Homo sapiens: one gene and its partners. The protein of the gene in region 1 purifies or fractionates together with the protein of each later gene. This does not show direct contact. Each region holds a gene or a part of one and is shown in the gene's direction. Other genes may lie near its edges.

What was found.
Region 2: the proteins of MUC13 (region 1) and SUDS3 purify together in Homo sapiens (affinity purification with mass spectrometry, with the first as the bait; one study listed by BioGRID). This does not show direct contact.
Region 3: the proteins of MUC13 (region 1) and MYO1D purify together in Homo sapiens (affinity purification with mass spectrometry, with the first as the bait; one study listed by BioGRID). This does not show direct contact.
Region 4: the proteins of MUC13 (region 1) and SFXN1 purify together in Homo sapiens (affinity purification with mass spectrometry, with the first as the bait; one study listed by BioGRID). This does not show direct contact.

What each region holds. Positions count from the first base shown.
Region 1 is NC_000003.12:124,921,252-124,924,751, reverse strand, and holds part of MUC13 (mucin-13 precursor), read left to right. Parts: intron 1-1,102; coding exon 1,103-1,225; intron 1,226-2,448; coding exon 2,449-2,555; intron 2,556-3,500. UniProt on the Homo sapiens protein: Epithelial and hemopoietic transmembrane mucin that may play a role in cell signaling.
Region 2 is NC_000012.12:118,383,055-118,386,554, forward strand, and holds part of SUDS3 (sin3 histone deacetylase corepressor complex component SDS3), read left to right. Parts: exon of another isoform or gene 1-330; intron 331-957; coding exon 958-1,013; intron 1,014-3,059; coding exon 3,060-3,131; intron 3,132-3,500.
Region 3 is NC_000017.11:32,765,625-32,769,124, reverse strand, and holds part of MYO1D (unconventional myosin-Id), read left to right. Parts: intron 1-1,372; coding exon 1,373-1,489; intron 1,490-3,500. UniProt on the Homo sapiens protein: Unconventional myosin that functions as actin-based motor protein with ATPase activity. Plays a role in endosomal protein trafficking, and especially in the transfer of cargo proteins from early to recycling endosomes.
Region 4 is NC_000005.10:175,513,060-175,516,559, forward strand, and holds part of SFXN1 (sideroflexin-1), read left to right. Parts: intron 1-403; coding exon 404-531; coding exon of another isoform or gene 532-536; exon of another isoform or gene 537-677; intron 678-3,500. UniProt on the Homo sapiens protein: Amino acid transporter importing serine, an essential substrate of the mitochondrial branch of the one-carbon pathway, into mitochondria.

The sequences.
Region 1 (3,500 bases):
CAATAAAAAATAAATCTCCCTCTCATCCTAAACCCCCAGGACCCAGACCCCCAGTTTCCTTCCCCAGAGGCAACTTCTGTGCCCAATTCCTTGTATCTCCCTCCTGAAATTACCTATGCAAATATAAGCAAATATTTGCTTGTGTATAATCCTTCCCTTCTTTTATTCACAAAAGAGAGCATGTTATACACATTGTACCTTACATACAGCTTTTAAAGAAATCAGTGGTTTCTACATATAGGTTTGTAAGACTCTCAAGACAGCTCTGAAGGTTATCAAACACATAAGCTATTCTGACATCACAGCTCAGAATCATTCCACTTGACAGAAGTGAAGAAAACTCATAGCCCAGATCACCACTGGACCACTGAGCTAACTCTCCTCCTCAGATCTCATCAGTTCCCCAGAGAAAGAAAGATGCTACACCCTGCCTGGCCTGGGAGTCTCAGCCCACAGTGTAGAACCCATTGCAGTGTTATTTTCACCATTTATTCAGATGATCCACTTAGAAAGCCAGAGGCTGGAATGTCTTCTCATGGCCTCTTAGAATTTTCACTGAGTTAATCCACATTTCTCTCCTTTACTATCCCATTCCTGTTTTTATGGCTATGTCTCCTAGGTATGCCTAACAGAATGTGACATCTAGTTTCTTTTGGAGCTTCTTGGCTGTTTCTTCCTATATGACAATTATTCATACCTTTCTAAAAATAAGATGTTTTATCTAGAATGTTTTGGGGAGCCCCACCTAGTGTTAGAGGACCATGCTTCAAGGTTCTGGAGGGACTTTGAGATCTGAAGATTCCTGACTCCTTGGAGTCAGAAGACTGCAATCTCTCTTTCTTTGGGCAAGCCCTTGTACACTAATCTCTGATCTTTACTATTGACAAGTATTATACTTGGCTCTAGAATTTCAGAAACAAACTCTCTAGAGACCTAAGCAAGCAAATATTTGTTTTTAACTCTTCCAAAAGTGTGCTGTGGAGTAACACAAGCAAGGAATGGAAAGGGCCCAGGGGGGAGGCATGAAGATGGAAAAATACGTTTCCAGTTGTTATTTATTGTCATTTCTCTGGATTTCTAATCTCTTTCTACTCCATCTAAGGTCCCAGCAATCCTTGCCAAGATGATCCCTGTGCAGATAATTCGTTATGTGTTAAGCTGCATAATACAAGTTTTTGCCTGTGTTTAGAAGGGTATTACTACAACTCTTCTACATGTAAGAAAGGTGAGTTACAAGGGATGAGCCATGGCTGAGCTCTGTATCTCACACCAAAAGTGGAATCGAAAACTCAAAATGATGGCAAAAGGAGATTCCAAAATATGAGAGATAAAGAAAATGCAGAGGCAACAAAGGCCAGCAAAGTAGAGAAAAGTGCTGTTACCTAGGGACACTGAGGCAGAACAAGGTGATCTATCAAAGACCACACAGTCCAGCAACCCTGGGAGCCTGATCTTCAGTTCTGTGTCACAAGATTTGTTTGCTCCATAACATCAGATCCCCCTCTTAGAGACATAAGAGCCCTTCAGCTCTAAAAATGGATTTCAGGAGTACATTTATACACTTGTGGCATAATGATGTTTTGATTAGATCACCAGGGTGCAGTGAAGGTCTGAGGGCTGACTGTCTGAGTTCTGTTTTTTTTTTTTTTCTGTTTTATGAATGAGAAATATCTTCATTTTCCAGAGCAGCCAATTCTATAAGAAATGAATGCATTGCATTGCCCACTGGGGTTAGGGATATACCAAAAGGCCCCCAAATGCTCATATTTTTAGCACTAATAATCTCACTCCTGGGGATTTACTCTAAGTAAGTGACCCCAAATACAGAAGAACAGTTTGTGTGTGAAGATGTTCATTGCAACTTTTTCTTTTCCTTTTAAATAATTAAAAGCACTAAGTCCAATAACAAAAAATGATTACATCAAGGAAGGGGACATGTACTTCACAGAATATTATGCAACCTTTAAAAATGATGGTTATGAGACCAGGCATAGGAGCTCACACCTGTAATCCCAGCACTTTGGGAGGCCAAGGCAGGAGGATCACTTGAGCCCAGGAGTTCAAGCCTGCAGTGACCCAGTTGTGCCACTGCACTCCAGCCTGGGTGATAGAGCAAGACCCTATCTGTCTCTCTCTCTCAAAAAAAAAAAAAAAAAAAAAGACTAGGCAACGATTTGGAAAATACCTATTATATAATAAGAAGAAAAAAAATATGGCATAAACTTGGAATTACAACAATGTAAACTGTAAATGGAAAGAAATATACCAAAATTAAAATGGTTGTGCTAGGTTGGGCAGGATGATGGGTAACTTTTAAAATATTTCCAGATTTCCTGTAGTGTCGTTATATAATGTTGGGAATTCTAAAAAATAATCTATGTTTTAAAACAAAATGGAAATGACCCTCTTTTCATCAAATAGTACAGAAAGATTCTGCTTAACTTTCAGGAAAGGTATTCCCTGGGAAGATTTCAGTGACAGTATCAGAAACATTTGACCCAGAAGAGAAACATTCCATGGCCTATCAAGACTTGCATAGTGAAATTACTAGCTTGGTAAGTATTTTCCAACTTTCCTTTCTGTAAAGCATTCTTTGTTCTAACACTGAGTTGCAGAGTGTAGAGCTGGTCTTCAGGTGGTTCACGCTCGTACCATCGTACCAGTTGTTCAAACAGTGAAATGTACCTTTACTGGTCGGTAAACAGCAGCTGTCCTGAGCGCCTCCACCGGTGCCACCACTTCTTCATTGCCCAGGCCTCTCCCCTGGGACCCTTGGACCACCCCATGGTCTTGCACCTGGAGGCGTGGCACCTGGCCTGGCATGGCAGAGGGCCTGCAGAAGCTGGCTCCAGCCATACCATACCCATTGTTTTATAAGCTATTAACACAGTTTTAAATGGACAGATAAATATCATGAAGTTTTAAAATAAATTATTTCCACAGAATGAAAGAGAAAAAATTTAAAGATGTTGTTTTTCTTTTTTATATTCAAATTTGCATAAATTTTCATACTAGTCTGGCTTTTAAAAAAATGTCTAGAAGAAGAATTACATCTGAATATCTGTTACTTATTTTTCCCATTTTCAAAAATGTTGGCATGAACAATAGTTTCCCATCATTTAGATTATTGTGAGCAAGTGCACACATGTGAGCAAGCATGAAAGGAAAGGGTCTTTCCATTCTGCAGCCACAGATGTTAGCTCTGGAAGGACCCTCAGAGCATGTCCAGCCAATACAGCTCAAAGTTCAGTTTTAAAGGAAAAAATATTAGCCTTAAATATGTCTTAGAAGTTGAGGTGGAGGCTGGGCATGGTGGCTCATGTCCGTAATCCTAGCACTTTGGGAGGATGAGGCGGGCAGATTACTTGAGGTCAGGAGTTTGAAACCAGCCTAGCCAACATGGTGACACCCCATCTCTACTAAAAATACAAAAATTTAGCCAGGCGTGGTGGCAGGCGCCTGTAATCCCAGCTACTCAGGAGGCTGAGGCAGGAGAATCT
Region 2 (3,500 bases), on another chromosome or scaffold:
TTTGCCCTGAAAGAGTGAGATGTGTGTGAGTCTCAAATTCTGCCTACTCTCCTCCCCTTACAGAGGGTTGGGTTGTATTTGCAGCCCTTATTTGAGCGCTAAAAAGGTTATCACGCCCATGTGCTCACTTCAGCAGCACATATACCAAAAGGTTATTGTGCTTGTTATATGTTGGACAGTGTTCTTTCAGATCACAAATCTTGTTTTTATCACTGTTAAATTGAGGGTGTTTTTCAGGTAGAAGCAAAAATACTTGCTGAAATGTGATTTATATGTGGAACCCACCTTCAAACCAACTTGCTGAAGTTATGACTGCCTATAATCCATTAGGTGTGAGAGGAAAAAACTAACATGCCAAATGCTTTTGCTTCGTGTGTGCTGTGTATTCCCATCCAGCTGGGGCTGCCAGTAAATGCTGCCTTTTAACTTTTCTTTCTGAATTACTATTATTTCTCTGATCCTAAAAGAGTAGTGCTTTAAAAAATGACATGAAGGTTTATTGACTTAGTTCTTACACTGCTAAGCATATCTGCATAGAAAAACATGCTGAAGGCATAATCTTACTCTCCTGTAACTTACAATCTAATTGTAGAGTTGATGTAAGAGTTGTGTTTAATGCCATTTCTACATTGTGTGTGTGCTTGCCTGTTTATAATTGTCATTTATTAAAATCTGCTATCGTTGCAAGTTTTAGACGGATTCTGTAAAGATGGGATAACATGGGAGAATCTACAAAATTAGAATAAGATTGAGGAACACAGGGTTCTTTCTTGTTCCTTTCTGATCCCTGTGGCTGCTGGTGCATTTTAAGCCAGCAAGCAGACTTTACTTTCCTCTCTTCCCTGAAGGACATTAATGACCTTCCCATAACAGCCCAGCTAATTTCTGTGAGTAGGTTATTTTGGAATTGAGTATTGAATGTTTTTATCTGTTAGTGTGACTTTTTTTTTTTTATAGGATGTATCAGGACAAACTGGCTTCTCTCAAGAGGCAGTTGCAACAACTGCAAGAAGGTTGGTGTGTGATTGAATCCTGCATTTCTAAATATGCTTCTTAATATTACAAACCCTTGAAATCTGTGTATTTCACTTCTCTGTGGGAGTTATTTAAAACACGGTCTGGCTGATCTTAGCTATCCAGTACATTTTGCTATCTTTTGCTGTCAGTAAAGTGGTGATTTTCCAGCTCCTTGATTTTGAAACATTTATTTCCAGTATGTGTGAGATTCTTTCTTCAAATGAAATCTCACTTGGGACTTTCAATGGAGCACGAATTGAACGCCACTGTGCCTAAAGCTAGAGATTTTTAGGAGAGACATTGTTATCAAAGAATAAAGTTTTTACTGTTTTTTCTAAACCAAATGTTAATGACCTTGTGGATTATTCACACTGTGTTTTCTCCTTTTTGCTTGTTACATTAAAAGTAGATTGTATTTTGTCAAATGCTGCTAGCTGCTAAAGGCAGTGCAGCATCAGAGTTAAGAGTGCAGGCTGTGAGGCCAGGCGCGGTGGCTCACACCTGTAATCCCAGCACTTTGCGAGGCCGAGGCGGGTGGATCACGAGGTCAGGAGATCGAGACAATCTTGGCTAACATGGTGAAACCCCGTCTCTACTGAAAAATGCAAAAAATTAGCTGGGCGTTGTAGTGGGCACCTGTAGTCCCAGCTACTCTGGAGGCTGAGGCAGGAGAATAGCGTGAACCTGGAGGCGGAACTTGCAGTGAGCCAAGATCGTGCCACTGCACTCCAGCATGGGCGACAAAGCGAGACTCAGTCTCAAAAAAAAAAAAAAGAGTGCAGGCTCTGGAGTTTTGTGAGGGATTGGAATCCCAGTTTCCCTGCTTCTAGTAATGTGACCTTGGACATGCCAGTTTCTCTTGTTTAATCTGTTTTCTGATCTGCAAAATGAAGCAAGTAAGAGTAGATGTGATTATGCATGAGGAGCGTCTAGCACAGCAGTGTGCACACTGCAAGGTCCTGGGGACAGTTAGCTGTGGCAGTGAGCTCTTCGGTTTCATATTGTGGAGTCCCCTTGTCAGTGAAACTGTTTTTGCTTTTCTTTTTTTTTTTTTCGAGGCTGAGTTCCGCTTTTGTCACCCAGGTGGAGGGCAGTGGCGCGATCTCAGCTCACTGCAACCTTCACCTCCTGGGTTCAAGCGATTCTCCTGCGTCAGCCTCCCGAGTAGCTGGGATTACAGACGCCTGCCACCAGGCCCGGCTAATTTTTGTATTTTTAATAGAAACGGGGTTTCACCACATTGGCCAGGCTGGTCTTGAACTCCTGAACTCAGGTGATCCGCCCACCTCAGCCTCTCAAAGTGCTGGGATCACAGGCATGAGCCACCATGCCCAGCCTGATACTGCTGTTTCTACTATGTGCTTTTATTGCTGGTGAGTGATCCACGCCCTTGGACTAGCCCATGGTCAGGCATTATAATCAGGAAACACTTCCCCCCACAAGATGGGCCCCTCATAATTAACTGTTTTGTGGGAAGAGCAATGAAATGAATAGCGATTTGGTTAGAATCTATACCTGAATTGTTTAATGCTGTCACTAGCCACATGTGGCTGTTTAAATTTAATTAATAATTTAGTTCTTCGGTTCCACTAGCTACATTTCAAGTGCTAAAATAGCCACAAATGGTTAGTGCCTGCCATGTTGGACATTGCAAATATAAAACACACCATTGCAGAAGGTTCTACTGGAGAGCGTTGACCTAGACCTTACTGAAGGAGAATGAACCTTTTCCAGTAAAGGAAGGCCCGTTGATTCAGACTGTTGCAGCAACTGATCAGAATAGTGTGGAGATATTGGCAATTTTCCACTCCCCCTCACTCACTACAGACCCTTGATCCACTGGGTTGGGTAGACTTTGAATGGGCCCCTAGTGGTTTCTGCTGTGTGCCTTGGTTAAGAACCAGAGTTAACTTTGCTGAGGTGTGTCTTCCTTTGGTGTTACTGAAACAGTCAGTGTTGATGCTAGATAATAATTTTAGGAAGCAAAATGTAGAGCAGATTTATATTCACAATAATTTTATTTTTCAAATGTTCAAAATCAGGTACATTACAGGAATATCAGAAGAGAATGAAAAAACTAGATCAGCAGTACAAAGAGAGGATACGGAATGCAGGTAAGGCTCCTTTAAATGGCAATGAATCATCTTTCAATGTTTGACCATTTGCCGATCGTCGGTGTAATGCAGCCCTAAGAGCTATTCTCCAAAACATATCCCAGATACTCTGTCAGGGAGAGTTTTCAGAAAAGAGACTTCCAAGCTGCAGTTATGGAAAGTGGTTTCATCTTCTGCTTCTGTTGCTAAGGAATGGCCCAGAAGTGGAGGGTGTCTGAGGAGGCTCCTTGGAGTTAGGTTGTTCTCCCTGGTACCCCAAGAGTAGTCTTGCACCCTCTTGCTCATTTCTGCATGGCTGGCCTGATGTACAGTCAGAAGTGCGGATGAGGAAAAGGATTGTAGGTTGTTTTTGTCCCATTTTAAGTTTTT
Region 3 (3,500 bases), on another chromosome or scaffold:
GAATGGCATCCCATGCCTGTGGCTAACCAGTCATTTAGTAAGGGAAATAAGATCACTCTGATGAGTTTAGACCAGTGAAGATTTACCTCTTGAGGCTAGGTAGATGCCAGTCACAAAGGACATGCACACTTAGAGAGGAGTAAACAAATCAGGGTTCGATTGGCAAGAAAGAAATGAGGGTAGAGGATGGCTGTTAGGTAAGCAGCCAACAGTTCCCCACAGTAGGACATTTAGATTTTATCCAGTTACTTTCCAACTTCAACATGGTTGCAGTTTATAATAATAGTAATATCTGATACTGCTGAGTGGTTTTTTTTTGTATGCTGGTGCTAGAGAGGTGCTTTATATAAATTTTCATTCAATTCTGACAACCACCCTGTAAGATATATGTTATTATGCCCATTTTATTTGTGAGGAAGTTGAGGTTCAATGAGGTTAAGTATCTTGTCCAAGGTAAAAACAAAAACCTAGGAGGAGGAGGGGCTGGCCTGGTTGTCTCCTGGACACTAGAGGAACTTGTACTCACCAGGCAGAGAGGTCCCCTTCCAGGGCCCTTCCTCAACAAGTGAGCATCAGGCCAGGTCTCTGTATCCAAACAAGAGGAGAAACTTACTGAGGAAAGAATTGGTCAAGCCTCTGCGGCTGCTGCTGTGGTAAAACTAATATAAGCAGTTACTATTGCTTTATTGCGAATTTCTGTTTACGCACTTGTATTTCCAATGTGATGGCCACAGCTCTAAAAGGGCAGGCGATTCATCTTTGAGCTGCCTGTACCAGTTAGTAGAGCTGACTTGTGAAATGCGTATCAAGTGAGTGAAAGAATGAAGTTATAGTCCCAGACTATTTAATAGCTTACTAAATGACTGAGGCTGGCTGTTTTGCTTTTGAGGGCCCGCCTTGCCTCACCTGGAAAATAAACCGCCTGATTATACGAGAGTGAAGTGTTGTTGCCAGCCTAAATAAGACAATTGTGGAACAAAGAGCCACAAACAACAGTAGCCAAGCATGTATCTTGGAGGCTCCCACATTCAGCACTTGCATTTGTGATCTCACATCCATGCTGTTGCCTTCACTGATCATGGAGTGGGGGATCAGCTTGTCTGAGCCAGCTCAGGACTTGCTCCCTCACTGAAGGTTCCAGAAAACGGCACAGTGCTTATTTTAGGTGATGGCTTTCACGCACAAGTGGGCTTTGTACGTGCTGAATAATGTTGCAACTCGTGAAATCATTTTTATTTTCTCTGGAGACTCACCATCCCCTCAAGTGATTTACTATGAAGGCAAAACCTTGGTATAACTTAGTTTTATAATTGTTGAATTTTAATGCTCATAGGAAATATCTGTAACTTCAGTTTTTCATTTTCATCCCCAGTCTTCTATCAATGATGCTGCCGAATTCAGAGTTGTTGCTGATGCCATGAAAGTCATTGGCTTCAAACCTGAGGAGATCCAAACAGTGTATAAGATTTTGGCTGCTATTCTGCACTTGGTGAGTAGGGACACCTCTCAGAATGTATTGTCTTCTGCTGAGAACAGGATGCTTTCTCAGAAGATTTTGTTTTTTCCCTGTAGATTTAAAAAGTATTCAGAGAAAATTTTGTACGTATTTTGAAGAAATTACTATGTCTGTGGTTCTTGCCATCATTTTATAATATTATGAGGGATTTTCCAAGCTACTATAGGGTTGGAGACTACTACTTCAGTTGATTGTCTTACTGGTATTGTCAAACTTTGAACTGGTTAATTTTAAGGATAAAGGAATTCAGCAGTGATGTGACTACTAGTGGTATAAATTTCTAGTGGCATTTGAAACATAGAATCATAGGTTATCGGAACTGGATTTTTAATCATCTCATTTTACAGATTGGGAAATAGCCCTGATGGGTGGCATGACTACCTCAAAGGCACAGCCAGCTCATCCCAGAGCCAACACCATAGACCACTTTTGGGCCACTTGTTTCCCACTATACCACACCAAACTTAGAAGTGAAGAACTGTGTGTTAGATTTCTTTCATTAACATTTATATAATTAGAGATACTTAAAATACACTGAACATATAATCTTACAATAAGAATGACAACATGGATTCAAATCTGGAATAAAAATTACTTTTCACTTAATATAGCAAGATTTAACTCTAAATGAATCAGAAATGTGCAGGATCTTTATGAAAAATATTATATAGCAATATAAACAATAAATGTTCCTGACTAGGAAGACTTTAGTATTATAAATTGTCTCATCTGTTTGAATCAGTTTTTAAATACAGTGCAGCAGTCCTTTTCAGAATCCAAACAAGAATTTTATTTTTTGTTGTTTTGTTTTCTTTTTGAGATGGAATCTCGCTCTGTCACCCAGGCTGGAGTGCAGTGGTGCAATCTAGGCTCACTGCAAGCTCCACCTCCCGAGTTCATACCATTCTCCTGCCTCAGCCTCCTGAGTAGCTGGGACTACAGGCGCCTGCCACCACGCCTGGCTAATTTTTTTTATTTTTAGTAGAGACGGGGTTTCACCATAGCCAGGACAGTCTCGATCTCCTGACCTCGTGATCTGCCCATCTCAGCCTCCCAAAGTTCTGGGATTACAGGCGTGAGCCACTGTGCCTGGCCTTTATTTTGTTTTTAACTTGACCTGTTGATTCTAGAATTTACCTGGAAAAAGATCAAATAAAGTATATTAAAGAAGTGTCGTATAGGGTAGGGTAAGGGAGGAGAGGGAACATGACTAGTTCTACCAAACTTAAAATGATAGTAAAAGCTAGAGTACTTTATAACTTTGCACAAGTTCAGCACCAGATCAACAGATTAATCAACTGATTGGTTAATGTGCTGGACATTTGGTAGATGGTTATAAGTATGTATTGCTTATTGAATGAGTGGAATATAAATAGACTCAAACACTTGAGGAGATTTAACATATTAAAAAGGTGACATTTCAGCTGGGCGGGGTTGCTCACACCTGTAATCCCAGCACTTTGGAAAGTTTGAGGTGGACAGATTGCTTGAACCCAGGAGTTCCAAGACCAGCCTGGGCAACATGGCAAAACCCCATCTATACAAAAAATACAAAAATTAGCCAGGCATGGTGGCACGCATCTGTAGTCCCAGCTATTTAGAGGGGCTGGGGGTGGAAGGATCGCTTAAGCCTGGGACGTTGAGGCTGCAGTGAGCCATGGTGCACCACTGCATTCCAGCCTGGGTGACAGACCCTGTCTCAAAAAAAAGGTGACATTTCAAATCAGAAAAAGCTAGACTGTTCAATAAGTCCCGTTAGAGCAACTAATCATGTGAAAAATAAAGTTAGATTCTTACTTGATACCATGTACCAAAATCAATTGTGGATGGATTAAAAAGTTTAAGGAAAAAGGCCAGGCGCGGTGGCTCACGCCTGTAATCCCAGCACTTTGGGAGGCCGAGGTGGGTGGATCATGAGGTCAGGAGGTCGAGACCATCCTAGCTAACATGGTGAAACCCTGTCTCTACTAAAAATACAAAAAAT
Region 4 (3,500 bases), on another chromosome or scaffold:
GGAGGCCGAGGCGAGTGGATCACCTGAGGTCAGGAGTTCAAGACCAGCCTGGCCAACATGGCAAAACCCCGTCTCTACTAAAAATACAAAAATTGGCCGGCACACTGTCACATGCCTGTAATTCTAGCTACTCGGGAGGCTGAGGCAGGAGAATCGCTTTGAACCCGGGAGGCAGAGGTTGCAGTCAGTGGAGATAGCCACCACTACACTCCAGCCTGGGCAACAGAGTGAGACTGTAAAAAAAAAAAAAAAAAAAAAAAAAAAACAGATGTGTCAGTACCAAAAATGACACTTGAGTGGGTATTTGAATTAAGTAGAGGGTTGATCTTTCCCAACATAGTACTATTTCAGGACGTTTATTGAAGGCATTGGTGGAGCTCTCTGTATGTGTTTTGCTCTGCAGGGAACTCAAAGTTGGCATTCCCGTCACGGATGAGAATGGGAACCGCTTGGGGGAGTCGGCGAACGCTGCGAAACAAGCCATCACGCAAGTTGTCGTGTCCAGGATTCTCATGGCAGCCCCTGGCATGGGTTAGCAGGACTTTGTCATTTATTCCATAAATACAGGTTGAACCAGCGTTCACGGATCCGTGAACCAGAAAACAAACACATATATCACACCTCTTAGTGGAAATTGCCTTCCACTGGGGGTGGCAGAAAATAAACAAGTAAATAAAGTATGTAGTATGTGCAGTGGTGATGAGGGCAAGGGGGCAATGGGGCTAGGGCGTGTGGGTAGGGCAGCCGGGGAAGAGCACTGGGTGGAGGTGTGGGAGTGAGCCAAGTGGGTATCGGTGATGAATATTCTGGCAGAGGGAACCACAGGCAGGAGTTTGCCTGGTGTGTTACAGGCATTACGGGTGCAGGTGCAGCTGGGGCACAGTGGGAGGGGTGGGGAGCAGTAGGAAGGGAGTCAGGAGGCCACAGACGGCAGAGCGTGGATGGCAGCCCTGGCGTTTCACACCTGGGTTTTAGTCTGAGAGGTAAGAAGCCAGGCAGGGTTTTGCATACAGGAGCAGCACAGTCTGACTTAGGTTTTATCTGTGTGACTCTGGGTGGTGGGTTGAGAATAGGCTGAAGGAGAATGAGAATATTCAGTGGAGGCTGTGCGGGGAGGCTGCCTCAGTAATCCAGGCAAGAGGCAGTGATGGGCTGGACCAGGGCCATACAGTGGGAATTTGACCAGAAGGAACTGATGGAGCAAATTGGAATGGTTAGAGCAGCTACTGATAAAATGTGTGCCAAGCAACTGCTCAGGTTTCCCTATAGGGACTGGGGTCAGAATGACCAAAAATAGAAAGTCTACATTGTATTTAGTTCTGCTGAGAATCTCTAGTCCACCCTAAGGCTGCTTAGAGCTACCTTCAGACCAGGGGCCTAAAGAAAGTTCTCAGACTGAGAAATCAGAGGGCCTGGCAGTTAGAGTGCTCTTCACAGAAAAAAAACAGAAATTAGTATGTTTAATTTTCATCATCTAAACTGAATGCAAACAGCGCTTGGCAATTAAAATGAAGCTCTCCAATGAAGTATACTTCATCAGCTGCTGTCAAGTCATCCATTGATACTGTTTTGCGGTTTTTAAATTCCTTTTGTCACTGTGACTGCTCATCAGCAGGCAAGGAAGAGCAGGCAACAAAAGTTGAAAAGTGCATGAAGGAAAACTTTGAGGAATATGATATTCACATTCCAGCAAATTGGGGGAAAACTGCTATTATCTGGTTTAACACAGGAGTGCCTTGGTGCCCTGCCTGAGGCTAATGTGTTCTGTAGGGGTGGCTGCACAGCCACAGTCCTGAAACATGGGAAAGCATCTCCTGAGTCCAGGGACCAGCACGTTTGTCACTAACCTAAAAGGAGGCTATGGAGCCCACCCCGGTGTTCCTACTGAGCCCTGATTTCCAGATTTGCTGAAATCGAGGTTGCGGCTCCAGCTTCTGCCCTGGGTTTGGTTTGTTGTTGTCGTCGTTGTTTTTGAGACAGGATATTGCCCTGTCCCTCAGGCTGGAGTGCAGTTGCTGTGATCATGGCTCACTGCAGCCTCAACTTCCCTGAGCTCAGGTGATCCTCCTACCTCAGCTTCCCCAGTAGCTGGGACTACAGGCGTGCGCCACCACACCCAGCTGATTTTTGTATATTTTGTAGAAACAGGGTTTTGGTATGTTGCCCAATTAGTCTAGAACTCCTGGGCTCAAATGATCCACCCACCCCGAATGCTAGGTATACAGTTGTGAACCACCATGTCCGGCCCTGGGTTTGCTTTTGATTGTGGTCTTTTCTGTTTTGAATTGCCTTACTCCTCTTAGAGTTCAGCCAGTCCAGACGGACAAATCCATTTCTAGTGATTTGGTTATTTTAAACACTATTTAGTCCCCAGAGAAGAAATACAATCTTTCTGTCCTAGTGCAATTTATAAGAGTAATTGACATATTGAAATAGTGGATATGACAGTTTAGCCTGATAAAAGTTGTCAGCAAATGAACGAATGCTGTCCACCGCATACCCAGTGTTTTACATGCAGTATTGTCTCCAATTTCCTCCATTTTATAGAAAAAGAAAACAGAAAGCTGAGGCTCAGAGAAGTTAGGTAACTTCTCCAGGGTCACCCAGCTAGCAAGTGGTCTAGCCCAGCGGTCCCAAACCTTTTTAGCACCAGGGACCCATTTCATGGAAGACAATTTTTTCATGGACCAGGGGTCAGGGGGATGGTTTCAGGATGATTCAAGCACGTTAAATGTATTGTGTACTTTAGTTCTATTATTATTACATTGTAACATATAATGAAATAATTAGACAAGTCACCATCATGTTGAATCAGTGGGAGCCCTGAGCTTGTTTTCCTGCAGCTAGACAGTCCCGTCTGGGGGTGATGGGAGACAGTGACAGATCATCAGGCACTAGATTCTCATAAGGAGCGGGCAACCTAGATCCCTTGTATGTGCAGTTCTCAATGGAGTTCAGGCTCCTGTGAGAATGTAATGCGGTCGCTGACCTGACAGGAGGCAGAGCTCAGGCGTAATGCAAGCAATGGGGAGCAGCTGTAAATACAGCTAAAGCTTCATTCACTTGCCCACTGCCCTCCTCCTGCTGGGCAGCCCTATTCCTAACAGGCCAGAGATCCATACCAGTCCATGGCCCAGGGGTTGGGGCCCCTGGTCTAGCCTGTACGGAAGCAGTTTCTGCCTGACTCCAAGGCAGGATTCTTTACACCATCCTCCCTGCCTTGTGCCCTTTGTTTTATTAATATAGGAAGAAAAAGTTCCTGATATTTTTATTTTTGTCTACTTAAACCTAAAAGTAAAGTTCTTTTCAAGATTATAAAACTTTCTGGCTGGCAGAGGATGTGATATTACTGTTCAAAAATTTAGAAAATCAGAACAGTTTTCAATCTAATGAATTCAAATGTAATAATTTAAAGAATTGCTACAAACTGTTTTTACTGTGACAGTGGAAATAGCCTAAAAGTGACAGAAGCTTTCTGTCAAATGGTTGAAAAAAAAAGT